Linked DNA regions of Homo sapiens: all the other regions are reported to be linked to region 3. The links are microRNA targets in miRTarBase. Many come from high-throughput screens and were not tested one by one. Region 3 holds a microRNA gene; each other region holds the end of a gene's coding sequence.

Region 1 (4,170 bases), not on the chromosome of region 3:
ATGCACTATGTGGTCCTGGATTGGGATGCTGAAACACAGGAACATTACTGAGGCAATCAAAATCAGCAGATTGAATGTGGTCTATGGATTAGATATCATGATGTCAATGTCAATCTCCTAAGTTTGATGGTTGTACTATGGTTACGTAGGAATGCCCTTGTCTTAAGGAAACACACAGTAGATAGAGGTAATAATGCAAAAAATATTTTGGTTGGGATTACATTGAATCTACAAATGTAAATGAACATCTTTACACGACTGAGTCTTCTAATTCGTGTACATTATGGAGTACTACATTTATTTAAGATCTCCTTAAATGCTTCCTGACATGGTCTAACATTTTCTCCATCAAGATCTTGTACATCTTTTGTTAGACTTATTCTTAGGTAGAGTATTTTGTATTTTTTAATGATATTGAAGAGATCTTTCTAAAAACTTCCATTTCTGTTAGTTGCTGATATCTAGGAATACAACTGACTTACATACTGATTGTGAATGTAGCAAATTTGCTAACTCCTAGATGTTAACTGAATAGTCTACATATATAATCATATCAACACATCACCATAATTTCCTGCCTGTAGGAAAGAAAAACCCACAGAATTCCACTGACTATAAGTTATTTAACAATATACAATGGTTGTCATTTAGAGAGATGTTTCCAGTTGTATAAATACTGTAACACAACGATAGCTGGGAATAGTGTAGCCATAGTACCATCTTTAAATCACCCAAATAACTGAGGTACAATTCTATCTGCTTGTGAGTTCACTAGGCAACAAGTCTCAGGGATCATATAGTCTTTGTCTCTGTATCAAAACAAATACACTGCCTAAGGTACACTAAAAGTAATTTAACATACTGTACTCATAAATTCTAACTAAGTTCTCTGTAGGTAAAACATGGCTAGGGAAGTTATGATCAACCCTTCAGAAATGACTTCTTCTGAGTCGTTTGGACAATACGCATCATCTTGGACAATACGCCTCCCACAAGGCTTCCTGGTGTTCTGGCAGCACTAACAGGGCTCCTGCTGTTGCCCTTTCCTTTTGGTCACGTATCTTTCCATGTTGCAAAAAACAACTTCTGGATAAATGATTTCCACCACACTATTAGATAGCACAACACAGTGCACACTGTGGATCCTCTAGAAATAGCAACCTCTTCTCAAGAGATACTTGCCTCAGGGCCCCAGGAAACTAGAAAGCATCTAGAGGCTTAAGGCTCTACGCTGGACAAAGTGCCAGGGAGCCCTAAAGGCAGAAAGGACCCAAAAGTGAAATTCTCATTTTTAAGCTGTGAGGGAAAACAGAGAAATGAGTTTATTACATGATATAACCTTTGGGTGGGCTCCATATATTAAAAGAGAACTGAAGAAGTTTAAAAGTACATTTTCTAAGTTTTAGTATAGGATGATGATAATGTTCTGGAGATGAATAGGTGCTCATGGTTGCAAAACAATGTGAATATACTTAATGCCACTGAACTATATGCTTAAAAATGGTTCAAACAATATACTTAAAAATGGTAAATGTTATGTGTATTTTACCACAATAAAAATTTTTTAAAGTTGCATTTTCTATTGTTAAAAACTACCAGATATTATTTAGTAATCACAGTCATTAAGAGCACTAACCATCAAAATCTGACAGCCCTATGTTTGAGATTTGACTCCACCTGTTACACCTGTGGAACACTGAAGCAAGTCATTTAACTAAGCCTTAGTTTCCTTATCTGTAACACAGAAATAATAACATGCTTACCCACCCATTATAGGTTGCTGTGAACTTGAAATAAAATAATCTATGTAGCACCTTGGCAAAGTTCCTGGCACACAGAGAAGGCTCAATACACATGGGCTCTAATTTTCTTTTTAGGTATTCATAGCAATATGATTATTTTATATTTTGTACAATGAGGACTAAAAACAAGCCTTCAGAAAAAAAAGGGCTGGTTATTGCTCCCTAGACCTTTACATCACATAGAACTATAAAACAGGTTTCCATAAAATTCATTCCACATTGTAGTCAACGGATGTATGATCCTAGGTGTTGACTTCTAAGCCAATGGTTAATAACCTTAAACTCTCATACTGTAATAGGCAACAACTGAAAAGAAGCCACGGGAACATGAAATAATTTAACAAGTTGATATATATATATATATATATTATCAAGTATAACACAGTCATACAAAAACATTTAGTAGAAATATAATTCACACATAAAAACAGTCTACTTATTTTTTGTCCCTTTTATATCCTATTTTAGGCAAAATGATAAAACCCAGAAAATAACAGGAATGTACTAGTCCTAAAAACTGGACCTTTTATAAATGAAACAGATCCGATCACCTATACCTTCTCTCAAATTCCAAATAATGAGGCTTACTGACCTGTACTCTCAGAATCAACTTAAATAAATTTTAGCTTGATTTGGATGAAATATGTACTTTCAGTTGTTGACAATCCAGGTAGAACAAGTACATAAAATGATTCCTAAGTCAAAACATTTCATACAAAAGGAATGGTTTTAACCCAGACAAATCAAGAGGAAATGCACTGAATTCAAAAACTTCTGAAACAGGCATTTTTTGGACCATTTATAAAATACTAAAAAGTTCAGAACTGCTGAAAAACAAAAGTTTATATAAAATAAAGCCAAGGGGTGAAAAACTATCAAATGTATTAAAACCATCTAAAGCCAAATATAATATAACTGAATATATAATTTAGAAACAGGTTTAAGTGCATTTTCTTTGTACAACTGACTATCACATGTAAAAACTGGCAATTAATTAAAATGCAATTAAATACAGATTTGCAAGCCTTCTGGCCATTATGTAAACATTTAAAAATTAACTGAATTGCCAATTGAAAAATAAGAGCTTACATACGTATCTTAAAAAAGCACAAATGGTGAAAGATGCACTATAAAATTGTGTGACAAAACATATGCATACCAACAAAGATCTTTTTAGGCACTTGCATTCAGAAACATTCCTTTTATAAATAAGCACTTATAACAGTTCCACTCCAAAAAATAAACCTGATTTTCCCAAATTGCACCTATTAGTTGAGACTATATCATATATTAGGGATGCATTCAAATGGACCATTTGGTGGGGAAAGTCAACTGAACTTTAAAAAATACGAATCCACCTATCTTATTCACAACTTTAAAAATACAGAATTTAAAGATAATTCCAGTGAGGCACAAATGTGACCCTATCAAAACATTCTACCATTCAGTATTACCAACAGAGGATAAATACAACAACAAAAGGCAAAACCCATGATTTGGCAGTCCTATACAAAAGAGGCCCTGTCAAAACATTCTTTCACAAAACAAGCACAATACCACAAAATAACACAACAACAACAAAAAAACCCTGAAATTTGACATCCCTACACAAATTGTGGAATTTCACCTTCGAGGTCTTCAAACTGTTGCATTCGTTTTAGCCTTGGTCTCTGACACATTGGATTCACATCAGGCAAGCCAAGCTCCTCAGAGTCTTCTTTAGGTTGACCAGTTGCTTGCCCAGGACAAGCTGATGCTTTGTCTGGGTCTGGCATTGACTTCACCACGAGACCGTGGGGATCGTGATCTGTGCCAGGAGGCACTGCTGCTGAGGGTGAAGCTGGCTTCTCCTCATTCCCCCTGATACTGATGATGGGAGCATGTGGTTTATAAAATGTTGTCCAATGTTGAGGCTGCAGTGTTCTGGGTGCTCTGACAGGAGCGAGAGGGTAGGAATCTGAAGACCGTCTCTCAGATGCCTCTCTCACTGACCTGACTGGCTCTGCATATGGCTTACTGGGTTGAGTGGCATTGATAGAATGGTCCCCACTAATCTGGAGGCTTGTTGTCACTCCTTTTTCCTGGAGTGCACTGGGCATGATCATTGTAGTCTTGGCAGTTAGGCTGTTTTGTTCATACTGTTTGTCCTGAATTTTCTGTAGAGTTTGCTGGTCAAAGCCATTAAATTTGGAACAAACAGTAGTAGCAGCGTCTTTTCTATTAACTCCTTCAAAGGCAGGATTCTTGCAAAACTTGTCTAAATTTACATTTCCCATATTTCTGCCATTTCTCTCATTAGGAGGACTTGCAAGAAGTAGTCTATCTACAGGCAAACTTACAGGTCTAATCTTGGTCCTTGGAGTATGCC
Region 2 (4,170 bases), not on the chromosome of region 3:
CATATGGCCCACAGGCCTCTAATATTTTCTGTCTAGTCCTTTAAAGAATTGGTGTCCAGGAGACTCAATAGAAAGAGAGCAATCTCCTCCACAGATGGAAGTCAATGGTGGAGAGAACAAGGTGAAGATATTCCTTCCTAAAAACAGACCTGGGAACAGATTGCTCTCTCATCCTTGAGGACAACTATGTAATTATGCCCACCTGCCCCACTGCAGAAGGGAGGTTGCTTCAGAGCTAGAGAACGCAGGTCCCTGGAAATGGCTTGCAGCTACAGCCACCAACCCTGATTCATGGGACATCAAAGTCTATGAGATTGGTCCTCTCTGAGGGTGTCTGGCAGTCAGAGGGGCTGGCCCCCAAGGGGCGCAGGAGGCATGGGCCTGAGGTGTTACATGGGCTTTACTCAGTCCCCTCCAGGAAGTCTCAATTCCAGGCACCAGCCTGGGTTTGTGACTTTTCAGAGATGGCATCTTATGTGGAAAGTACGTCCTAATCTTTCAAGATGTAAATATGCCAATATCAGCACCAGCATACAATGCCGGTTAGTTCTAACCAAGCTGTCAAGGGCTTTGTCTCCATTTCTGCTTCTGTTTTGAAAAGAACTCAGACTGCCAAGCAATTATGAATGTTCCTCCAGTGTTACAGGCTGATACTTGCAACTTGTTTTTTTCAGGTGGCCAAAAAAGGAAGAGGTCACCAGAAGGAGAGAGAACCTCTGAGGACAACTCCAATTTAACACCTCTGATCACATGACAGGGCAAAGCCAGCATTCACTGGGTGTGTGAAATTCCAGAGCTTTGGGGGAGAATCCACCCTCCCATCATCTGCTTCCCCCAAGGCCTCCCACAGGTGACAGAATGTTCTGCCTTCCCTTCCATCTCTTCACCCCTAGCTGTCAGTTTGGCAGATTTTCCCTCGTTACCTCCAGTTCGACTCAGAACCTTGACATGGCCATAACAGAAGGAGGTGCCTCTGATAGAACATGCTAGAAATGGTCTTTTCCACAGCATAGTCTGGGACTGGAAAAGAGATGTCTGACTGCAAGCTGACAATGCCACTCTGGGACCCCTGATGCTCTTCTTTGTTCTTTGGGTCCCCTGATGCCATAGGAGACCTATCGTCTTGGAACTTGCCATTCTTTCCTCCAGAACAAAATGTTAACTTTCTAACACATTTCATGCATAGCTTGGCTCAGAAGGTGCCATTGGCAGACAGGCACATGGGAGGCTGGAGTAGGAGGTCTGAAGATTAGTTCAGGGGATGGACCAAGAATTTCCCCCAGAGCTTTAAAGAAGTGGGACTCAGCCATGTTGGCGCGTGATTGACATTACAGCACAGAAAACTGTTAGTGACTGGTTTCCTGTTAGATAAGGGTTCCAGCAGCCTGGGGCAGTATGTCTCAGCTGGAATGGAAAGAATGTGAGATGGAACCTCAAGTCACTGTTTTTACCAGGGACACATCTGTTTTGGCTCCCAATCAGCAGTCTTCAATCGATCAATAATTCTGCTCTGGAAGAGAAGGAACAGGGAGCAGAGAGACCCAACTGGGAGCCAGAGATGGAACTTCAGGTCTTAAGTGCAAATCAAAGCAAAAAACAAACAAAACTTACATGGAAAAACTGTAAGTGCTGAAAGCAAGTTTAGCCATGACAAACCAAAGAGTGCCCAGGTCAGCCAAGAAAGATACATAATCTCATGGGACTTCAGTGGGAGTTACACAGGAATGTTGAAGAATCATTCTTCTTTTTCATGCATTTGTCCTTCTCCCACCCCCTTACTACACCCTAGCAGATCAGCTGAGTGTACTTTATTCCAAGAACTTACTGGATCTCTGGTTTTTCTCCTGAAGTTGGGGCAGGTGCAATTCCAAGCATAACCACCAGATGGCAGAGTGACCGCGCATACCTGCTTCCAAGAATAAAACAGTTCTGAAAAGCAACCGCAAAGCCGGGCGCGGTGGCTCACACCTGTAATCCCAACAGTTTGGAAGACCGAGGCGGGTGGATCACTTGAAGTCAGGAGTTTGAGACCAGCCTGGCCAACATGGTGAAACCCCATCTCTCCTGGGCATGTAGTCCCAGCTACTCGGGAGGCTGAGGCAGGAGAATCGCTTGAACCTGGGAGGCAGAGGTTGCAGTGAGCTGAGATCACACCACTGCACTTCATCCTAGGCAACAGAGCGAGACTCTGTCTCCCCCCGCAAAAAAAAAAAAGAAAGAAAGAAAGAGAAAAGAAAAGAAAAGCAACCACAGCCAGCCTTAGGGAAAACTTGGAAGTAAGTGAAATTTGTCTTCAGAATAACTATCTCCCTTTCTGATCTGTCTCCTACTCTTTAGATGTTCTCAGTCAAGTACTCACTGAACTCATTGATCGAGTGCTGTCTGCTAAATCTCCAAACCATTCCCAAACCTTTCCCCGTAGTATACCATCCAGCTTCCCTCCCCTTCCTCCAAAACCCTCCCTCCCACCTCCCCACACCCATTGAGTCATTCACAGGCAGGAGGGAGACTGATCATTCCTCTGGGTTATCTGCATCTCAAAAGAAAATGCTTACCCACAGGAACTGTTAACTCAGGGGTTCTTAACTTGGGGTCCATCACCCCAGGGGGTCCATAGTTGGACTTCAGAGGGTCTATGAAACCCCTAAAACTGTCAGTATTTAATGTATTTATTCTTGTATGTTTTTTCCAGAGCATTAAAGCTTTCATAAGGTTCTCAAAGGTCTCAGACCTACAAAGAGTTAAAACAAACAGACAAACAAAAAAAAACACTACTATTTTAAATAGTGGAACTTTCAGCCCAGCGTTTCTGCAATGCAGAGTGAAGTGGATACTGGGCAGTTCGAGACAGGTTTTTAATCATAAGTGGTCTTTTCAAATGTCCATCAATTGATGGGGAAGGCTGGCACCCACCAAGAAGTGGAAGTCCTCAGAAATTCTCGGCACACCCTAGAGTATTGTACAACCAACACCCCCACATAACTTTGTCCCCTCTTCCCCAACAACCCAGAGCAGGTGTTGCAGACAGGAGGGCCACAGCGTGTGGAAGTAAAGACTTTGGAGCTAGAGAAGCCTTTTCCAGCAATGATTATTGACTTCACCACACCCCTTGCCTGGCCTGGCCTGAGGCTCAGCAGTGCATGACTTCTCGTAGATAACTTCACAGTCATCCAGTCCCAACACCTGCTCTTGCCTGGTAGGAACAGGCGAAGTGTCAGCCCTCAATGTTGGGTACTTAGACCCAAACCAATAAATGGTGAGTTTTGAACAAGAACTACCATCATGCAGGCTTCTTGCCCAGCTGACCACTGGCCCCGGGGTGCCTGCCTGGCTGGTCTTCATCACCTGAGGCCACCAGGCTCAAGCCACTGCTGTTGCATTACACCCATCCCTTTGCAAAATCCCTATGGAGCCTGTCACCACTCCCCTCCCTATATACCCCCACCCCACAAAGATTTTCTTCAGGTTAAAAAAAAAGTTTAAAAAAAAGATTTTAAAATAAAGCATTTATGAAGGCTTAATAAATTGTAAATAATTTTTAAATAAAATGAAAATGCCTTTCCTGGAATGTGGCTGTTTTCCTTGCCCCTGGAATCTTCTGACGTGGCTTCATTTGAGATGCAGGTTGAGTGATGCCCACGTGTGATGATCTCACCTGTGCACCACCTGCCTGAAGAGGCATGCCGCTCCGGGCCAGGTGTGAGGCTGCGGTGAGGTCACGGGGAAGCCTTGGCACACTACTTTGGGAGGCCAGATGGTAAGATTTTGCAGGAGTGAATGCCAGAAATGAGAAGTAAAACCCAAATGAGAAGCCAGTATGCATAAAGACGAGGAAGGAACTAAGACGACAGTGAGAAGGGCTGGCATTTGCTGAACCCATGTGATGGGTGAGGTGCTGTGCTGGGTGCCGTCCAAATTCAGGGTCTTGGGGGCTAAACCCAGACAAGCCCCTGAGACAGAATGTTGGTCACACTAGCTCGCTTCTGCAGAACCTTCAGAAAGGAGTCCAAGTGGCATGACTCTGGCAGTTTGCAACCAAAGGCTAGGGAACGGAACACAAGAATGGGCCAGGCCTGTTGGTCAGTTTTAAGCCGATGCTGGAGGGAGGGAACAGCCAGGCAGGTGGGAAGATGTGTTTGGGCATATAATACCTGTGTGGAAGGAAGGCTG
Region 3 (4,170 bases):
GTATTTTTTGTGGAGACAAGGTTTTGCCATGTTGCCCAGGCTGGTCTTGAACTCCTGGGCTCAAGTGATCTGTCCAACTCAGCCTCCCAAAGTGCTGGTATTACAGGCATGAGCCACCGCATCCGGCTGACCCCTTTTTTTTTTTTTTTTTTTTTTTGAGACAAAGTTTCCCTCTTGTCGCCCAGGCTGGAGTGCAGTGGCACGATCTCAGCTTACTGCAACCTCTGCCTCCCGGGTTTAAGCGATTCTCCTCCCTCAGCTTCCTGAATCGCTAGGACTGCAGGTGTGTACCACCATGCCTGGCTAATTTTGTGTTTTTAGTAGAGGTGGGGTTTCACCATGTTGGCTAGGCTGGTCTCAAACTCCTGACCTCAGGTGATCTGACCCCCTCGGCCTCCCAAAGTGCTGAGATTACAGATGTGAGCCACCACGCCTGGCTGACCCATATGTTTATAGAAGTTTAATAAAATGAACTTCCTAAGAGATGTGTTGCCAGAAAAGAAAAATTATTTTAAATTTTACATCGAGATCTACAATCTGTTTGGAATTGACTTTTTTTTTTAAACAAATTATATATAATTATGGGATGCACAGTGATGTTATGATTTGTATATACAGTGTGGAACTATTGAATCAAGTTAACTAACATATCCCACTCCTTAAATATTTATTATTTTTCTTCCTGTCTAACTGCAACTTTGTACCCTTTGCTCAGTATCTCTCCATTGTCTGCCACCCTCCAGTGACTGGTAACCACATTCTACCCTGCTTCTGTGAGTTTGATTGTTTTATTTATTTATTTATTTATTCAATTTTAATTTTTTTTTTTTGAGACAGAGTCTCACTTTGTCGCCCAGGCTGGAGTGCAGTGGCACCATCTTGACTCACTGCAACCTCCGCCTCCTGGGTTCAAGTGATTCTCCTGCCTCAGCCTCCCGAATAGCTGGGATTACAGGCATACGCCACCACGCCTGGCTAATTTGTGAATGTTTAGTAGAGACGGGGTTTCACCATGTTGGCCAGGCTGGTCTCAAACTCCTGTCCTCAGGTGGTCCACCTGCCTCGGCCTCCCAAAGTGCTGGAACTGCAGGCATAAGCCACCACGCCCAGCAGTTCGATTGTTTTAGATTTCACATAGAAGTAAGATCACATGGCCAGGTGCGGTGGCTCACACCTATAATCTCAGCACTTTGGGAGGTCGAGGTAGGAGGCTCACTTGAGTCCAGGAGTTCGAGACCAGCCTGGGCAACATGGTGAAACCCCATCTCTACAAAAATATAAGAATTAGCCGGGTGTGGTGGCACTGCCTGTGGTCCCAGCTATTCAGCAGGCTGAGTGGGAGAATCGCTTGAGCCTGGGAGGTAGAGGTTGCAATGAGCCGAGATGGCACCACCGCACTCCAGCCTGGGTGACAGAGTGAGACTCTGTCTCAAAAAAGAAGTGAGATCATGCAGTATTTGTCTGTCTGAGCCTGGCGTATTTCACTTAGCATAAGGTCCTCCAAGTTCATCGGTGTTGTTGCAAATGACAGAATTTCTTTTTTCAGACTGATTATTATTACATTGTTTATATATATATGTGTCACATTTCCTTTGTCCATTCATCTGTTGATGGACATGGCTTTATTCCATAACTTGGCTATTGTGAATAGTGCTGCAGTGAACATGGGAGTGCACATGTCTCTTTGACATACTGATTTCAAGTTCTTAAGATATAGATTCACAAGTGGGATTGCTGAATATGGAATTGATTTGTGTGGGTGAGGCGGGCATCCAGATAACATTTTTGTCCAAATGGATGCCCAGTTGACCTAGTGCCATTGATTGAAAAGGTCATCCTCTCCCCACTGCACTGCAGCGTCACCACTGGCATGGATCCAATGACCTGTGTTGTGTGTGGTTCTGCTTCTGGTTAAGCCAGATGCTCTGCCCTTCCATGAATGCGTGCTGCCTTAATTACTATAATTTGTCAAGCATTTTGTGACACAAAATACACAACGCAATGATGTTTTGTGTAAAGGTTTGGTATGATTTTCCTTTTATGGTTTTTGTTATTTACATTTCATTTTCTATCTTTCTTGCTTTTATATACTTTTTGGCTTTTTTTTTTTTTTTTTTTCAGATGGAGTCTCGCTCTGTTGCCCAGGCTGGAGTGCTGGAGTGCAGTGGCACAATCTCGGCTCACTGCAAGCTCCACCTCCCGGGTTCACGCCATTCTCCTGCCTCAGCCTCCCAAGTAGCTGGGATTACAGGCGCCCGCCACCATATCTGGCTAATTTTTTGCATTTTTAGTAGAGACGGGGTTTCACCGTGTTAGCCAGGATGGTCTCGATCTCCTGACCTCATGATCTGCCCGTCTCAGCCTCCCAAAGTGCTGGGATTACAGGTGTGAGCCACCGCGCCCAGCCCCTACTTCTTGTTTTTCAATGTTGTATCCAGTGACCTTGCTAAATTTGCTTATTCTAACAGTTGGCCCCTAGCATCTTGATTTTCTAGGTATATTGTGTTGTCTGTGTGTAATGTCAGTTTTTAAATTTCTTCTTTCCTAATCGTTATGCCTTTTGTTTCTTTTTCTTGCCTCATTATACTTGGAATAGAAGTAGTATTAGCAGGCATTTTGGTCTTGTTCCTGAAGGTAACCATTTTGGTTTCCATTGTGTGGTCCCGTCACATTTGTTTCATTCTGCAGGTGCTTTTTGGTTCCTTCTCAGCAGGTAGTGCCCCAGCAGCAGGGCTCACTACAACCCTGGGACTCCTCAGGGACTCCTGGGTCTGTGAGCCATACTTGGTTGAGCAGGCTGAACACACCAGTATCCATCCTGTCTCACCCTCAAGTCCTCATCTAGGACATCATTCCTCTTGTCATGGTGGGTGGAGCCAGTTCAAGTGGGAGGACAGGAGGCAGGTGTGGTTGGAGGAAGCAGCCTGAACCTGCCTCCCTGACATTCCACAGGTGAACCCAGATACTGGCTACATCAACTATGACCAGCTGGAGGAGAACGCACGCCTCTTCCACCCGAAGCTGATCATCGCAGGTGATGCGCGGGGCGGAAAGTCACCTTGTTCACCAGTAGCCTGGTGCCTCTTACAGAATGAGGATGGAAAGATGTTCGCACCCTGTTGAGCCCACTGCTAGTTTCTGCCCTGGATAACTGAGTTTCTGGGGTCTACATATATTAGTTTCTTTCAGGATACAGATGTGTGTTTGCTGCTTTTTGTGCTATGTAGATTAAGATGTGAGACTGTTCTCAGAGAAGCATCTAGAAATGTCAGGCCCTGACTGCGCTGGCAATAGTAGTTGGGGCCATCTCAACCACCAAGACGTTGAAGAGTTAGAGTGGTTGCCTTTAGCACAGAGGTGCTTTTTGAGGGCATTCTCCATTTTTGCTCTGAGACTTTAAGGGAAGAAATCTCTGGGCTTTCAGATCTGCACATCTAGAGGCCACTGTGAAGCCAACTCAGCTGGCCGGTGGACATCTCTGATGCAGCTGTGTCACCTTTCCTGTCTCAGGAACCAGCTGCTACTCCCGAAACCTGGAATATGCCCGGCTACGGAAGATTGCAGATGAGAACGGGGCGTATCTCATGGCGGACATGGCTCACATCAGCGGGCTGGTGGCGGCTGGCGTGGTGCCCTCCCCATTTGAACACTGCCATGTGGTGACCACCACCACTCACAAGACCCTGCGAGGCTGCCGAGCTGGCATGATCTTCTACAGGAAAGGTGAGCTCCCGAATGTTGGGTACAGATGGGTACCATGGTTTACATTTCTCCTGTGGGGGTTCAGATTCAGTTGAGGGAGCTGGGAAAAACTCTGACCTGGGATCCTTGGAAAATATTAAGATCCCAGTCCCTTAAAGAGCTGCTTAGGAAGGAGCAGTGACAGGCTTTACAGAAAGGATTCCCGGCCAGGTGAGGTGGCTCGCGCCTGTAATCCCAGCACTTTGGGAGGCCGAAGCGGGCAGATCACGAGGTCAGGAGATCAAGACCATCCTGGCTAACACGGTGAAACCCCGTCTCTACTAAAAACACGAAAAATTAGCCGAGTGTGGTGGTGGGCACCTGTAGTCCCAGCTACTCAGGAGGCGAAGGCAGGAGAATGGCGTGAGCCTGGGAGGTGGAGCTTGCAGTGAGCTGAGATTGTGCCACTGTACTCCAGCCTGGGCGACA
Region 4 (4,170 bases), not on the chromosome of region 3:
GTGGCTTGGCTAAGGGTAGGGAAGTGAGGCTTAGGAATGACAACTGGAGAGAGGAAGGAGGGAACCAGGTTCTTGCTTAGAGGCATGATGACTCCAACTGTGGAGACTGACTGGCTCCAGAACTGGGCTGTGTTGCATCCGTATCTCATCCACGGGAGGTCCTACAGCTGTGCTGGTCTCTCCCATCCAGCTGAGGCTCTTCTTTCTCCTTCTCAGGTATGGCTCCCATGGTGCATTTTACCGCTATAAGAACAGCATGGGCAAGAGCCTCCCACTCTTTTATATCTACGACTCATACCTGACGTCCCCTGAGGCCTGGGCCCACCTCCTGACACCAAACGGGCCCCATTCGATCCGCAACACGCCCTACGATGGGGTCTTCATAGCGCTGCTGGTGGAGGAGGGCCACACCCACGATATCCTGGCCGCCGGATTTGACGGCATGTACACCTACTTTGCCTCCAATGGTTTCTCCTTTGGTTCTTCCCATCAGAACTGGAAAGCTGTGAAGAACTTTTGTGATGCCAACAACCTCATGTTCATCCCCAGTGTGGGGCCTGGCTACATAGACACCAGCATTCGGCCCTGGAACAACCACAATACGCGCAACAGGGTCAATGGCAAGTACTATGAGACGGCCCTGCAGGCGGCCCTGACAGTGAGGCCCGAGATCGTTTCCATTACCTCCTTCAATGAGTGGCACGAGGGCACCCAGATTGAGAAGGCCATTCCCAAGAAGACACCCACCCGCCTGTATTTGGACTACCTGCCTCACCAGCCCAGCCTGTACCTGGAGCTGACACGCCGCTGGGCGGAGCACTTCATCAAAGAGAAGGAGCAGTGGCTCATGTGAGGGGCCTGTAAATGGGCGTGAGGTGCTGATGTCCTTGCCTTGCTGGAAGATGTCACCATGTGGGGTTCAGCTGAGGTTGTAGCCACTCACTCGTTCCCAGGTCAGAGGTCAGCAGATGGGTGTTTCTGGGTGGGCCGTCAGGCATGGGCCTGTGCAACACAGAGCCCGTTCCTCAGGCGAGTGGTGCTGAGGTGCTCTGTGGTGATGGGAACGGCAGAGGCTGGCAGGTGACTGAACTTAGCCCAGGGCAGCTCCACATCCTGGGAACACTTTCATGTAACCCCTTCTAGTTTTGAACTCTGCAGCAGGCTGGTGCTGTGTAGTGGCCACCCAGTCACCACCCTTGGAAGGGTGTCAGGGTCTGGGCTCGCATGCACCCTGCTCCCTTCTGCCAGCCTGCATCCTCTCCTCAGGCCTCCTTCCCACATCATCTGTCTTCTCTAAGTTAGGGAACCATATTTGAGACTTTCAAAAAGGGAACTTCTAGGTTTAAGCTCCTCCCAGTAGATTCCTGAACCCAATTATCAGGAAATCATCCTGAGCACTCACAGGTTCATTTAACACTCACTCATCAAGCACCTTCCTATGTGCTAGGTGCTGGGGAAAACTTGACCAAGGAAGAGTTCCTGTCCTGAAGCTTCCAGGACCCAGCTTTCCTTTTCTGGTGTGGCCTTGTAGCTAGTGCCTGGGCACAGGTGTTTTTCTTTTTGCAGTTTTACCTAGTGCTGGGAGTTCAGTTCTTTTTCCTCTAGAAAAATACCTCTGTGCTCCAGAGCCTAATTTTTCCCAGATGCATATTTAGCTCTAGGGAGAGGACTAGGAGGAAATCCCCCTCCCTTTAGCTGCCTGAACTGACTGAGGCCCACTCACTAGAGCCATGTTCAGTGCTACTGTGATTAGTAGTAATTAAATATGAACTGGTATTCTCAAGTAAGCATTCCTTTTGCTCTCTTTAAGACCTCACAGATTCTGACCTTAGATTCTGTGACAAACTGATACAGGAGCTGGGCTGGCTATGGCTTTACCACAACAAGTAGGTTTGCTTAAGAAATTACTAAACAATGGCTGGGCGTGGTGGCTCACTCCTGTAATCCCAGCACTTTGGGAGGCCGAGATGGGCGGATCACGAGGTCAGGAGATCGAGACCATCCTGGCTAACAGGGTGAAACCACGTCTCTACTAAAAATACAAAAAAATTAGCCAGGCGTAGTGGTGGGCGCCTGTAGTCCCAGCTACTTGGGAGGCTGAGGCAGGAGAATGGCGTGAACCCGGGAGGCGGAGCTTGCAGTGAGCCGAGATCACGCCACTGCACTCCAGCCTGGGCGACAGAGCGAGACTCCGTCTCAAAAAAAAAAAAGTTACTAAACAAGGCTGGGCGTGGTGGCTCACACCTGTAATCCCAGCACTTTGGGAGGCCAAGGAAGGTGGATCACCTGAGGTCAGGAGTTCGAGACCAGCCTGGCCAACATGGTGAAACCCCATCCCTACTAAAAATACAAAAATTAGCTGGGCGTGGGTGCCTGTAATCCCAGCTACTTCTGAGGCTGAGGCAGGAGAACCGCTTGAACCTGGGAGGCGGAGGTTGCAGTGAGCCAATGTGGCACCACTGGACTCCAGCCTGGGCAAGAGCAAGACTGTCTCAAAACAAAAACAACAAACAAACAAACAAAAAGAAAACACAAAAAACATTACTAAACAAGATTTCTAGAGGGAATTAACAAACCAGTGCTTATTTACCAATAAACTAATACGCTAATTGCAGGAACCCTGATTAAAGCAGGCCCCTGTTAACACAAGATTCTTAGGATATACTTGGAAACAGGTGCATTGGAAACCACTGTACTGAGAAGTTTATGGGCTCAAGACTGAATTGGAAGCTAGGCGTGGTCGCTCATGCCTGTAATCCCAGCACTCTGGGAGGCTGAGGTGGAAGGATGAGTTCAGGAGTTCGAGACCAGCCTGGGCAACACAGAGAGACGTGTCTTTAAAAAAGTAAAAAATGGGCTGAGTGCCTTGGCTCATGCCTGTAATCCCAGCACTTTGGGAAGCCAAGGCGGGTGGATCACTTCAGGCCAGGAGTTCAAGAACAGCCTGACCAACATGGCAAAACTCCATCTCTACTAAAAATACCAAAAAAATTAGCAGGGTGTGGTGGTGCACACCTGTAGTCCCAGCTACTCAGGAGGCTGATGTGTGAGAATCACTTGAACCTGGGAGGCGGAGTTTGCAGCGAGCCAAGATCGTGCCACTGCACTCCAGTGTGGGCAACAGAGATTCTGTCTCAAAAAAAAAAAAAAAAGACTGAATCAGAATTTTGGGAACTAGGGTACAAGAGGGAAGGGGAGGAAGGAGGAAATAGACCCCAGTGGTCACCTCAAGGACACCCAGCCCCAGTTAGGTAACTGATATTAAGCCCCACCAGAGAGATGAGCAGGCCTGGCCACCTGGCTTTGGGGCTTAGCTGGGGAAACCAAGGCAGGCAGGGACAGCTGAAAGGGTTGGATGTTGACCTGTAGTAATTTACAGAAGGTAGCAACACTGGCTTCATTTAACACACACACAATCTGAAAAATACTAAACATGGGAAGGCCAGGGGGCAGAGGCAGCCATTCTCACACACTGCTAACAGCAGTGTAACTTGACTCAGTTCTTTTGAAGGCTAATCCATACTGAGAGCCATAAATACTTCCTACACTTTGACCTACTCTCCTAAGGAAATAATTCAAAAGAAGAAAAACAAACCATTTACAAATATGTTTAATAGCAGCATTTCTTTAAAGAAAAACAAAGTTCAAATGCCCAATAATAATTATGTTTAACACTTGGTACACATATAAATAGACAAAAGGCTGCGGAGAACACTGGATTTAAATAAAGGTGTTATGGGTATAATTAACTATAATTTATTTTATGAATAAATAAGAAAAAAGTCCCTGGCTATAAAGGATAGTGGAGGTTTATTTCCCAATATTCTTCCATTTGGACTGAACCCCTGCCAACTAAGCAGACATCCCACTATTACACCAAAAAGACTGCTCTCCCTGCGAGCAATTACAATACATGACACCACTAGGCCCAATGGCTCAGAGGGAAGAGTGGCCTGTGGCTCTTCAATCTTTATCCAAACCTGGTTCTAGCTTCAGGAGCCTTTGGTCACCTGAGACTTTTTATTTATTAATTTTTATGAGACGGAGTATTGCTATGTTGCCCAGGCTGATTCTGAACTCCTGGGCTCAAGCAGTTCTCCCGCCTGGGCCTCCCAGAATGTTGGGATTACAGGCATGAGCCACCACACGCAGCCACCTGAGACTTTTTAA
Region 5 (4,165 bases), not on the chromosome of region 3:
GCTTGGTGGATCCTGAGCTGACTTGCCTATTTACAGCATTTTAAAATCCTATAGTTACATGTAGTTTTGTGTAAATAGGGTTTATTAGAATGTAACTTCCCTGAAGAGGTGGATGATATATTCTTTTTTTTTTTTTTGAGATGGAGTCTCACTCTGTCACCCAGGCTGGAGTGCAATGGTGTAATCTTGGCTCACTGCAACCTCTGCCTCCTGGATTCAAGCCATTCTCATGCCTCACCTGCTAGCATGCCCACCTAATTTTTCTACTTTTAGTAGAGACAGGGTTTCACCATGTTGGTCAGGCTGGTCTTGAACTCCTGAACTCAAGCAATCCACCCACCTCACCCTCCCAAAAGTGCTGGGATTACAGGCTTGAGCCACTGTGCCCGGCCTGGTGTACTTATTTATTTTTTTGAGACGGAGTCTTGCTTTGTCACCCGGTTGGAGTGCAGTGGCGTGATCTCGGCTCACTGCAACCTCCGCCTCTTGGGTTCAAGTGATTCTCCTGCCTCAGCCTGCCGAGTAGCTGGGACTACAGGTGCGCCCCACCACGCCCAGCTAATTTTTGTATTTTTAGTAGAGATGGAGTTTCACCATGTGGGCCAGGATGGTCTCGATCTCTTGACCTCGTGATCTGCCTGCCTCAGCCTTCCAAAGTGTTGGGATTACAGGCATGAGCCACCACGCCTGGCCTTGGTGTACTTACTTTTAATGCTTAGAGTACTCATCACACCTGCAAGACATTCAATAAATGTTTGCTGAATGAAAGGGACAGATGAAGCTGTACTATCCCTGTGATCACACAGGGAGATAAGGCAGTGCTAGCCTCATTCCAATGCTTGTTCCAAGCTCTCTTGTCTCATCACAGGGCTGTTACAGGCTCAGATGAGAGGACTGTATACATCTCTTAATGCCTTGGTGATACAAAATCCCATGAATTTCTTCTGATAGTTTGTTGGGGGACACTATAAGTTTAAAATTAAAGGGGGAGAAGGCCGGGCACAGTGGTTCACGCTTGTAATCCCAGCACTTTGGGAGGCCAAGACGGGCAGATCACCTGAGGTCAGGAGTTTGAGACCAGCCTGGCCAACATGGCAAAACCCCAACTCTACTAAAAAATACAAAAAAATTAGCAGGGCGTGGTGTTGCATGCCTGTAATCCCAGCTACTTGGGAGACTGAGGCAGGAGAATCACTTGAACCTGGGAGGCAGAGGTCGCAGTGAGCCGTTATCACACCACTGCACTCCAGCCTGGGCAACAGAGTGAGACTCTGTCTCAAAAATAAAATAAAATAAAATAAAATAAAATAAAATAAAATAAAATAAAATAAAATAAAATAAAATAAAATAAAATAAAATAAATAAAATAAAATAAAATAAAATAATAAAAGGGGAGAAACTCAGCAAAAATCACTTTTGGGCTGGGCATGGTGGCTCACACCTATAATTCCAGCACTTTGGGAGCCCAAGACAGCAGGATTGCTTGAAGCCAGGAGTTTGAGACCAACCTGGGCAACATAGCAAGACCCATCTCTACAAAAAAATGACAGAATTAGCCAGGTGTGGTGGTACATGTCTGTACTCCCAGCTACTTGGAAGGCTGAGGTGGATCACTTGAGCTCAGGAATTCAATGCTGCAGTGAGCTATGATAGTGCCACAGCACTCTAGCCTAGGCAAGAATAAGACCTCACCTCTAAAATAAATTTTAAAAAATCACTTGCGATTTTCTGCACTGCAGCCTAATAGAGCTTTAATAACTGGGAAGTGACCTCATCACATCTCCTAAATGTGACAGGAACTAGGAACACATCTGACCTTATGCACTTTAATACTACCTTTTTTCAGCATTTTTTTCAACATTTCTATGCTGGGACTAAAAAAATCAAGATGTGCTCCTCCACTAAAACCTCCACTGTCCAATTGGAATTGCAGTCTAGACAATTCTAAGGAAAAGTGATGGCCATATTCTGAAGAACATAAGTAGGTCTCAGTAGTTATAAACTCTTTTCACCAAAATGCTGTTTGATCCTCATCCTGAGAGCATTATTTAAAAAAATCTCCAAAGCTCACCACTCATTAATAACCTAACAGTTTTTCAAGACTGTGGGATATAGCAAAGATGCCTCTGCTGTGTCCTTGTTCTCTCTGCAAGCTTTTTACCAGGTGCTGGACTGGAGACTTGCTGAGTGCTAGACCACAGTGATTTGGTCATAGCTGGATGTGAAGATGGCTGGCTGTTCTTTCAGAAGGGACCTGGCTGGAGTTCTTATTGCTCAAAGCTCCAGCTTGCAGCACTGGGCTAGAGCTGATGGAAGGAGAGCTGTTACTATTCTGTTCTACGTGAATGCTACACTGTGAAAGAACAGCATCATCCGACTTGGGCAACAAGATAGTATTCAAGATGTCTTAGAAGGCCTAATCAGAACTTACCAGCTGTAGCATAGCACTCCCTCAAGTGCAGATGCTGGACCTCTGCAGCAGAAATTACTCAAGCTGTTCAGTATAATAGAAATGAAAATTCCCCATCCCATCCTTAACCTATTATCATCAGATACCTTAGGGCAGGGGAGGGGAGTAGACAAAAACCTGATTTTATTTTTATTTATTATTTTTTGAGGCAGAGTCTCGCTCTGTCGCCCAGGCTGGAGTGCAGTGGTGCGACCTCGGCTCACTGCAAGCTCCACCTCCTGGGTTCATGCCATTCTCCTGCCTCAGCCTCCCCAGTAGCTGGGACTACAGGCGCGCGACACCACGCCCGGTTAATTTTTTGTATTTTTTAGTAGAGATGGAGTTTCACCGTGTTAGCCAGGATGGTCTCAATCTCCTGACCTCGTGATCCACCTGCCTCGGCCTCCCAAAGTGCTGGGATTACAGGCGTGAGCCACCGTGCCCGGCCAAAACCGTGTTTTAAAACAAACTCTAGAATAACTGATGTCTGTAAGTTGGAGAACTGATGTGCAGGACATGATCCACATGCCTCTAATAAAACACCTGGAGAGGCAGCTATTGTGGATCGAGACTCCTGTCCTTAGTCTTCACCAAGCAGCACAGGCTGTGGAACCGAAGCTTCAGGTTTGCCTTCACTGGCTGAACTATGGTACCCAGAGGGCAGGAATCATGTCTGCTCTTCACTGATGCTCCTCATTCCCAGGAACACACAACACATAGTGTCACGCTGTAAGCAGAGCCAGGCTAGTAGTAGCCAGGAATAGGTCAGCTACCGAGGTGAGCGGTACCTAGTTGGTCTTCTTGGATCTCAGCCATCCTCATAACCTTTCAAAAACTCATTCATAGGAAAAACTTCAAAATGTCCTGCTTACCTGCAGTTACTAAATCCAGTGAGGTAAAGATGCTCCCAGTCTAGAATTGTACTCTAGCCCCTAAATCTTGCTGGGAGTCTCAGGAGAGGGTGTGATATACCTAAGGTTACTCCCTGTGATGTTCTGAATGGTGAGCACTTGTTTCTGCTGACTGTGGTCGCCAGGGATCGTTACCCACTTGACACGACAGGAGAAAACAGGTCACAGATTAACTGGCAGCCACACAGTGCATATGTATGGTAATATGGGGGGAAGGGTAGCACACAGACAAATCATCTGCCCAAGTGCATGCTGAGTGGATACAGATCACAGGCTGAGCACCTGGGGGCAGGGCTTTAAATCTTGGACTAAATTCACTCATGAGCCCTCCAGGATATCTGCTGGCAGGTGCACTGAGGATGTACATAGCACATGTGTTTGATAATGCAGTCCAATTGGGGAGTGGATAAAGTGCATTTATTTTCTTCTATGTTTGTTTTTGTAAAAAGGAGAAAGGAAGCAAAAGACTCCTTCCTTTCAGACCCAGTGTCCACTGAGCTTGGAGGGGGTGGAGCCGGGACCAGCCCCCTAGGAAAAGGTGTAGGAATAGAAGGCAATGGCATTGGCGCTATAGTCCATGGGGAGGAGGTGCCCGATGTGCCTGGCCCCTAGGCTGGCCCCACCCAGAGCGGAGGAGTGCCTCAGCTTCATCAGGGTGAAGCTGGAGAAGAAGTTCTGAGCCTGGATCTCTCTGCCCTGGGTCAGCGCCAGAAGAAAACCTGGAGGGAAGAACACAAGGACAGAGATAAGAGGAGAACAGCAACCTGTACTGGGGCCAGGAAGGAAGACAGACAAGGACGCCCAG
Region 6 (4,170 bases), not on the chromosome of region 3:
TCCTTGTTATTAATATAAATGATCAAATGATCTTTTACCTTAGGTAATAGTTTTAGAGCTGACAATTTTATCTTTTTGGTTAGCCTTATTAAGTCTGCATTTCCGGGAGGAGGTGTAGTATGGTCCTAGGGATAAAGAATTCCTTTTATTTCATTGTATTCTTAGTTAAAACAATTTATTGGTGACCTTGTTGAAGAAGAGTAAAAGTTTTATGGGAATCAGATGAAAAATAAATTGTCCATAACCATATCATAGATAAAAAACAGAAATGCTTTAGAAAATACTAAGTTCAAAGTATGGTATTTTATACTTTTCTCTTTTTAAAAAAATTAAAAGCTAGGCACAGTGGTGTGTGCCTGTAATCTCAGCTACTTAGGAGGCTGAGGTGGGAGGATCACTTAAGCTCAGGAGTTCGAACTCAGCCTGGGCAACATAGACCTTGCCTCTGAAATAAAATTTAGGTACCCCAAAACATGCCGTTACACATTCTTTTAAAATAATGCATTATAGATGAGGCTAAAGTCTACCTTGATTCCTGTGAACTCCGCCTCATTCACAAACCCTGGTCCTCTTCCCTATCCCCTGAAGAAATCATTTCTCAGTATATTGTCATTACTACAAAGACCTTTCTTTGTAGTTTTCACATGGGCTCAAAGAGTTATTCTCTGACATTCAAGCTTGTTTACAGTGTTACTCTTGCAGACAAAAAAATGAGGTGCAAATATGATTAAAAGCACAAGTGTGTAGTAATTACCTTAATGAACATGATTCATATTTGACAACTTTATTTAGTTTTGCTAAAAGGGAAAAACAAAGTCATGCAGCCTTCTCCAAACACATCTTAACATTTCAAAAAGCTGAGCAAATCTCATTTGATGAATCTAGAGTTTTATAAACACTTTGAATGGTACACAGTGACAAGATGCAGGGAAGATATATGGAATTTTATTAGTTTGATTACCTTGGTAATGTTATGCTATTAAACTCATTTCTCATTGAATTAGCATTAAGGTCATGATAACCCTCAGCTTTTATCAAGGGGCCTGGGATATTATAATAACTTGAAAATTCCAGTTTGGCAGTAATGATTATACTTAACCATGATCTTTACCAGAAAGTCAAATATATTCTACCTTAATTCCTCAGAATTCACATTCCTTGCATTCAGCTCCAAGGAAGGAGTACAATAAAACACATTCTTATAATTCCTGAAAATGTGATAATGTGGGTAAATTACAATAGCCCATTTTAAATGGAATGGTATTGATGGATGTACTTTTATAATAGAGACTTTGTAAGAGAATGGGGTCTTGCTCTGTCGCCTAGGCTGGAGTGCAGTGTCGTAATCATAGCTCACTGCAGCCTCGAAGCCTGGGGCTCAAGCGATTCTCCTGCCTCAGCCTCCCAAGTTGGTAGGACTACAGATGTGCACCACCATGCCCAGCTAAATTTATTTTTTGTAGAGACGGAGTCTCACTATGTTGCCCAGGCTGGTCTTTACTCCTGGGCTCAAGTGATCACCTCCCTTGGCCTCCCAAAGTGCCGGGATTACAGGCATGAGTCACCATGCCCAGCCAATAATTAAGAGACTTCAAAAACCAGATCAAAGTGAAAGCAAGAGGACTTCAGTAAGGAGAACCAAGGTAAAAAGGTAAAGCCAAATAGTTAAAAAAAAAAATGTATATTGTAAAATTGAATTTTTACTTTTTGGTGAATCTTATTAGTTTAGATCATTATGGATAATAAAACATTTAAACCATATCTGGCTTCTAAGAAAAGTATTTTTTTTTTTTTTGTATTTCTATCTGAAATGAAATAATTGCTTTTCTTCCCTGGTAAAGGCTGGATGGATTGGTAGGAGATTTCATTTATCACATAAATAATCTTAATCTTAATAATTTATCAGTGTGTTTAGATTTTGAATATTGTGTTTCCTAAAAATTATTTTTAAGCTTTTAATTCTTTTGTGTGAACTATTAGATAGTTGCAATAGTTACTGCTTTCTGTAATAGTTAAATGGAAGATCAGTTCTAATCATGAAGATAAAATGACAGGGAACTGGGAGCTTGTGACAGGCAGGATTCCTAGGATTGTTAACTCTCACTGTACTGTACCTTGTTTATAGCATATTTATTTCCTAAATTCTCCTTTTCTTTTTGCCTACCATAACTCTAACCCAAGGTTCATTTCACTGCTTGGCCTTTATGCCAGCAAGGAGGGAACCTAGGTAGGGTGGAAAGGGAAGCTATTCTTGACACTTTCAGAACTAGTTAAAAAAAAAATCTAGGGGAAAAGTTGATGACTGACAGATGGATATTAAGTTGCTTGGGGGTTTTACTTACATCAGAAATGTCTATCCTTTTTAATAGTTTCTTTTCAAGGATATTATAGGATTTGGCTGGACTGTGGCCTGCTGAAAAATGTAGGATTCTGTAGTGAATACATCTACAACTACAGTAAATAACAGCTTTCTTTTATAGCTGTATCATTTTCCATTTCCTTGATAAATACTGAGGTGGATGAAATATCTGTAGTAATTGTTTTCAACATGAAGTAAAGAATAACGTTGAGGCCTTTACTATTAGCTAGTCTAATACTCCTGGGAGGAAGGAATATATCTATCTAGTAAGAATTTTAATGTATCATTATTCCTTTATGTCTTCAAGCAGGCCTTCTGATAGGAAGTGAAAACAGTTATCAACTAATTTGGATATTAAATACATCATTCAATAGTTCAATGAATAAAAGATAAAAGTTAAAAGGGCTTTTTCCAAGTATGAGTCAAATTCTATACTTCATTTAAGAAGTGTTTTTTTATCTTGAGATTTTATATAAGATCCACAGTCAGGGAGGTTACCAGAGCTTGCCAGCAAAGTTGGAAGGCCCAGTGGTTACAATACCTGAGGATGTAAAGTGACTAGTAGTTTGGCAGGTAACTGTGAAATTACATTAAGCCAGGTAAGTTAAAGATCTTTGAACTCCAGTATACATAAAAGAAGTCTCTGAGATGTTTTGGCAGTGCTTTTATTACTAGGGCTAAGTCAATTCTGGAGGCCCTTACTACTTTTTCAAGTTCCAGAATTTTCTGACTCAAGTTTTCTGCAAGTGAAGGTTTCTTCTAGGCTCCATAGGAGCCCGGAGGGGACTCAGGGATGCCAGCCAACACAGAGGCAACTTCAGTCACCTGTGTAGAGAACCGTGCTTGGTACTGTCGCCAAGAGATCCTTGGTACATTCAAGAGTGTAGAGTGCTGACTTTGGAAGGCGATGGTACCACTTCTGAGGAGAAGCTCCGTAAGAGGTTTGAGGCAAATTGGAGGAGCCTCCTAAGTTAAATGTGTATCCAGACCTATTGCTTAAAAACAAAGTTCCTAGTGCAGATGATACACACTTGGAGAAATCAAAGTCTTTAAAAAGCAGTATGCAAACGAGAACATCTCTTCACAAGAAAGAAACATTTAAAATACACATCTTCGTTTCATTGTAGACACCGGCAGCTATTCTTCATCCACTGATTGAAGCTTTCCACATTTCTCTGGAAGGCTTGCACTTAATATTTTATTGCTTTTGTTTCCAAATTCAGAGGGAGAGGCAGGTTCATCTGTTTCATAATCTTCAAAGCTGAAATAACAAAGCAAAAGTGAATTAACTGATTGATTGATTAAAGTTTGGGTAGAAATCAATATGGCAAATCCGAGCCTCAAGACCAGCCCACAAAGGTACCTTGAATTGCTAAATGGAGGCCGTGAGCAACTCAACTGCCGTGAAGGAGGCAACACTCTAGAGCAGAAAACACATTCTTCTCCCTGTTCCTTAAAGCTTAAGTCCATGTCAGAATTTGTTGAAAATGTTCCGTATCAAGCTTTCCCTAGGGTGGTTGGTGGGAGTGAGAGAATTACAGATGGTGCTAGGTAAAGAAAAATTTGAGGTCCATGAAGTATGAGCATTACTTGACCTTATTAAAAGTGGTTTCCACTCAGAGTGGCAAACCTTTTTTTTTTTTGAGACGGAGCCTTGCTCTGTCACCCAGTCTGGAGTGAAGTGGCACGATCTTGGCTCACTGCAACCTCTGCCTCCCAGGTTCAGGCGATTCTCCTGCCTCAGCCTCCTCAGTAGCTGGGACTACATGCATGCGCCACCACACCTGGCTAAGTTTTGTATTTTTAGTAGA
Region 7 (4,170 bases), not on the chromosome of region 3:
TGTGTGACTCACTGTCCACTGGCGTTTGTTATAGCCTCGTCCAGCCTCCTCCATCAGGAAAGCCAACTCATCGTTTCAGCGGTGTATCCTGGGATGAAGTTGTTTCGTGCAGTCTATCCCTGTTTCCCATTTCTTGAAATTCATTGGTAACTTTGCCCCAACAAGTGTCTTGTAACCACTTCCCTCGTTCTCATTATTGTTTTTCCTTTTTATATTTATTATCTTTCCAGTAGAATTTAGTGAAGAAATATAGTCTGCCATCTTGAATTGTGGAACAGCATGCATTTAAATTGTATTTTATTTAATTTCTGCCTGAAAATATTGAGTTCTCAGTGATTTACATCAGTTGGTATGTGACAGCTCAGTGATGCAGAAGAGACCATTTTGTTCTCTGAGAGTCTCATCAGAATTGTGCTTGCATTTATGTAGTACTTATGTCTATGTCAGAGTGCTGTGTCCTCCCATCTTAGATGACGACTATATATTAATATGTCCTCTGCTTTCTGTTGTTCCATTACATTAAGGGTAGAATACTGTATTCACAGTGAATAATCTGTTAGTATTCTTCAAGACCTCTTATCTGCCAGGCAGGATGCTAGATCCTAAAGATAACAAAGATAAGTAAGGTATGTTCCTTGTCCTCATAGACTCATGGGAGCTCACATTCTAGGTGGGTAGAAAGACCAGTAGTTATGAGACAATATAATAGACATCACAGTGTACAAAGAGCTATTCTCGTGTTGCGTAATGAAGCATATAGGTACTGAACTAGCAAATAAAGGATCCTCAGTCAGTACCGGTGCTTCCTCATCATATGTAAGTAATATTTAAGATATTTTTATGTTTAAGATGCCAGAAGCTAAATAAACTTTTCTCCCTTATAGTTTTGACACATGATGAACTCTAGCACTGGTGTATATGAGAAGGAAGGCGAAAGCATGACAGGAAACCTGCCGCCTGCTGGGGAAGTCTGGAGCCCCTGCTGAGACGATTTGGAAGTCTCGTTAAGATCAGTGACATATTCTTTAATTTTAAAAAATTGTAATTATTTAAAACAGTTATTTAATGTATTGAATGAGTTTAAGTTATATAATAAATGACCATTGAGTATTTAAAACCTGATTGTTCCTTTTTCCTGATCACCAGTTAAAGTTTGACATTTTGCCAGATAGCCCAGGTACCGGACTAGCTGGTGTTTATCAAACTATAGCCTTTTGTATCTGGTTTTATGTGCATCCACATTTCCTTATTCACAAAATGCATTTAAAATTACAGAAATGCATTTAGGCTGGGTGCAGTGGCTACACCTGTAATCCCAGCACTTTAGGAGGCCAAGACAGGTGGATCAGCTGAGTTCAGGAGTTTGAGACCACCCTGGCCAACATGGCAGAACCCCGTCTCTACGAAAAATACAAAAAATTAGCTGGGCGTGACGGTGGGCGCCTGTAATCCCAGCTACTTGGGAGCCTGAGGCAGGAGAATTGTTTGAACCCGGGAGGCAGGGGTTTCAGTGAGCCGATATTGCGCCCATTGCACTCAAGCCTGGGCGACAGAGTAAGACTGTCTCAAAAAATAATAACAATAATAATATTACAGAAATGCATTTAAAATTACAGAAACCTATTTTGTATTTTTCCTTCTGAGACAACAATAATTAATAATTAAGCCCATTTATTCCTTAACTATTGTTTTAAAATGGAAGTAATATTGTTGCATAGTAATCATTTATCTTAAACAATGTTTTAATCTTATGCGGTATTTGGATTTTTTAATGTTTCTAATTTTATGTCATAAAAAGCATTTATGGGCATGTGGGATATATGTGTATTCTCTTTTTAAAAGGACTAGGTACTTTTATGGGAACTAAGTTGAGGATGTAACCAGTTTGTTTTTCTGATGTGTATTAATAATAGATGAATAATAGTAAATGTTTAAAAACTATCCAACTATTCTAAAATCATAGGATCATGGGACTGGAAGAGAACTCAGTGCCATTTGGACCTCATCCTGTGGAGAGTCTGATTCATTAGGTCTAAAGTAAGCTTGGTAAATCATGATTGTTTAAAAAGCTCTCCAGATGGTTCTGTAATTAGACAAGTTTGAGAAGCATTTAATAGAATTGGGCCCCAGCCAGTGTGCCGGCCCCTCTTCTAAGGCCCTGCCTGTAAAGCTGAGCCTCAGGCCATCTTGGAAATTCCAGGACAACAGGGAACTCTCCACCTCTAGAGACAGGCTGGTCCATCTTTGGACAGCTCTGTACACACAGTTCCATCATGAGCCGAAGCTCACTCCTGTGAGCTTTTCAGAACAAGGCTAATCCTTCTGTGTTTGACAGAACAGCCCATAGAGTTAAAATACTACTCCTCCCATCAGCTCCATTCATTCCTAATAAGAGAGCGCCTGCCTCTCCCTCTTGCAGTCATCCTCCCTTTGTTACTTGTTCGTGTTTGTCTGTATTAAAATGGAGTGCACCATTTATGGCCTGCTCTGGTGGAACTAGGTTATTCCTGTGAGTTCAGAGTATCCTATAGGGTACACTCAGAGGCTGGAGCAGTAAATGGTCCTGGGGCGGCCAGCGTCATGGTGCTCTCCGGCTCACTCTTGGGAGTCAGCTGAAGCTGGGGATTGGTAAGAGGTGAGACTCTGTAAGGTTCTAGGTCAGGCCAGATGCTCCACCCAGCTACCCAGAGGTCTGCTGCGGTGGCTGGGGCACAAACCTCAACTATAAGATGGTACTTTGTTTTCCTTTGTTACCAGCCTGTCTTCACTTCTGTGAGAATCTTATAGAAAGGATGATCAGCTGGGCAGAGACACCGGATTCCTACTTTTATTACCTACAATGGCCTTCTCCAGTATTCTAGGTCCCATATTTTCATGGAGTATTAAGCTAAAATTACAGAACAATGTAAACACAGTCTTGATGGCCCCCCTCCCTGTTTGCATCTTGTGATCTGAGTGGCCAGTTTACATGTTACATTTCCAGGTGAGTGACACCTTATACCAGAAAATCCAGATTTATAAATAAGGTATTTCTTTACAGTGAGATGTTTTAATTAAATGGCTTGTTTTAAAAATGCTGTTATGTCAAGAGCTCTCATGCATACAAACTGCTGTGCCATACAAAAATGTACCCTCCTCAGGGACACATTACATAACTGAACCATAGGTCTTATTTGCTAACACTTGGAGAGAAAGCCATTCAGTTCCTTGTCCTGGAGATGCTGAACAAATATAGTCCAACGGCTTTCATGGTATATTCAGGATCCTAAATTCTGGTTCTCGGCTGCAGGCCCTATGTCAAGTTTTAACAAAAATCAAATCCTAGAAGTAGTGGAGGTCAGCGGAATGTGGGGGAACTAGTTTCTAACTATGGGAAGTGATAAATGTCTTCTCTTTCTGCCTTCTTAGAAAAAGTGTCAGAACAGTGTATCTAAACTAAGAATGAGAAGCATTTGTGTTTGACCCACAGTGATGTGTGAGCTTTATGTAGAAAGTAGACCCAGAATCTGAGCATTAAGACAATCCAAAGTCAGCATACCACCTCCAACACTTAGGTCCAAAAGATTGTATTTGGGAAATGCCTGTCATTTGGCTCCAGTTACCCTCAAGCTCCTAGAGAACAACATAGCTCCTAGAAGGATAGCATCAAATACTTCTAAAGGCACCTAAAGCCATGTCAGCCTGGGGTTATAAAATCAGGCTTTTAATATTAAACATGTAGTCTGACACAAGTGGGACCTGCCCACAGAACTGCTTGTTGCTGTGTGCCAGGTCCTGACTCCAGCACCTGAAAAGCAACCAGACAACAAATTGCCACTGCCCAGAAGAGGCTCCAGGGACCCAACAGAATACTTTCATGGGCAGGAGGTACGGGACAAGTCAGATGAACACGTGGATCATGTGTCTCAGATCCATAGTTACAGAGATGAAGTAAAAGGTGCTGATGGGCCCATGCTCAAACCAACAAGCAGAAGTTATGACCCAGCCATTGTCTCACTCACTTCTGTTACTTCATAGACTGAAGGGGCTCCACTCACTTCTAAAGAACCAGTTGATTGGTTAAAATCTCACCTTTGGTGGCAGAGTGAGGAAGAGGAAACATGATGGTCCAGGGCTTTGATGGCCAAAATTACAGGTAACTTTGTAAGTTAGAGGGGCTCGGTCAGGTGT

What was found. Region 3 holds the annotated microRNA hsa-miR-6778-3p (UGCCUCCCUGACAUUCCACAG, at 2,932-2,952, shown strand). A microRNA usually pairs through its seed, bases 2 to 8, with sites in the 3' UTR of a target mRNA and lowers its output. Matches are read on the target gene's strand: a 7mer-m8 pairs with bases 2 to 8, a 7mer-A1 pairs with bases 2 to 7 and ends in A, and an 8mer does both.
Region 1: miRTarBase lists ARHGAP29 as a target of hsa-miR-6778-3p. Seed matches in the 3' UTR shown: 7mer-m8 at 985-991.
Region 2: miRTarBase lists CNNM1 as a target of hsa-miR-6778-3p. Seed matches in the 3' UTR shown: 7mer-m8 at 1,223-1,229, 7mer-m8 at 2,089-2,095 and 8mer at 2,121-2,128.
Region 4: the mRNA of MANEAL is a reported target of hsa-miR-6778-3p. The part of its 3' UTR that is shown has no 7-base or 8-base seed match.
Region 5: the mRNA of NAGK is a reported target of hsa-miR-6778-3p. Seed matches in the 3' UTR shown: 7mer-m8 at 2,851-2,857 and 7mer-m8 at 2,716-2,722.
Region 6: miRTarBase lists PPP2R3A as a target of hsa-miR-6778-3p. Seed matches in the 3' UTR shown: 7mer-m8 at 1,530-1,536 and 7mer-m8 at 1,400-1,406.
Region 7: miRTarBase lists UGGT2 as a target of hsa-miR-6778-3p. The part of its 3' UTR that is shown has no 7-base or 8-base seed match.

Annotation. Positions count from the first base shown.
Region 1 is chr1:94,170,463-94,174,632 of GRCh38, forward strand. ARHGAP29 (Rho GTPase activating protein 29) reads right to left here. Exons shown (of 23, transcript NM_004815.4): 23 at 1-4,170. The coding sequence ends at 3,407. Among named protein-coding and RNA genes, the nearest start is that of ABCA4, 51 kb to the left of the region's middle.
Region 2 is chr10:99,390,763-99,394,932 of GRCh38, forward strand. It overlaps CNNM1 (cyclin and CBS domain divalent metal cation transport mediator 1), which reads left to right. Exons shown (of 11, transcript NM_020348.3): 11 at 675-3,568. The coding sequence ends at 754. Among named protein-coding and RNA genes, the nearest start is that of GOT1, 38 kb to the right of the region's middle.
Region 3 is chr17:18,339,596-18,343,765 of GRCh38, reverse strand. It overlaps MIR6778 (microRNA 6778), which reads left to right and starts at 2,880; the gene lies at 2,880-2,952. SHMT1 (serine hydroxymethyltransferase 1) reads left to right here. Exons shown (of 12, transcript NM_004169.5): 6 at 2,953-3,034; 7 at 3,511-3,723.
Region 4 is chr1:37,799,351-37,803,520 of GRCh38, forward strand. It overlaps MANEAL (mannosidase endo-alpha like), which reads left to right. Exons shown (of 4, transcript NM_001113482.2): 4 at 217-1,783. The coding sequence ends at 853. It overlaps YRDC (yrdC N6-threonylcarbamoyltransferase domain containing), which reads right to left. Exons shown (of 5, transcript NM_024640.4): 5 at 3,595-4,170. Among named protein-coding and RNA genes, the nearest start is that of C1orf122, 6.4 kb to the right of the region's middle.
Region 5 is chr2:71,078,232-71,082,396 of GRCh38, reverse strand. NAGK (N-acetylglucosamine kinase) reads right to left here. Exons shown (of 10, transcript NM_017567.6): 10 at 2,589-4,079. The coding sequence ends at 3,889. Among named protein-coding and RNA genes, the nearest start is that of NAGK, 12 kb to the right of the region's middle.
Region 6 is chr3:136,144,493-136,148,662 of GRCh38, reverse strand. It overlaps PPP2R3A (protein phosphatase 2 regulatory subunit B''alpha), which reads right to left. Exons shown (of 14, transcript NM_002718.5): 14 at 769-3,620. The coding sequence ends at 3,497. Among named protein-coding and RNA genes, the nearest start is that of MSL2, 50 kb to the left of the region's middle.
Region 7 is chr13:95,798,527-95,802,696 of GRCh38, reverse strand. It overlaps UGGT2 (UDP-glucose glycoprotein glucosyltransferase 2), which reads left to right. Exons shown (of 39, transcript NM_020121.4): 39 at 885-1,117. The coding sequence ends at 907. Among named protein-coding and RNA genes, the nearest start is that of DNAJC3, 120 kb to the right of the region's middle.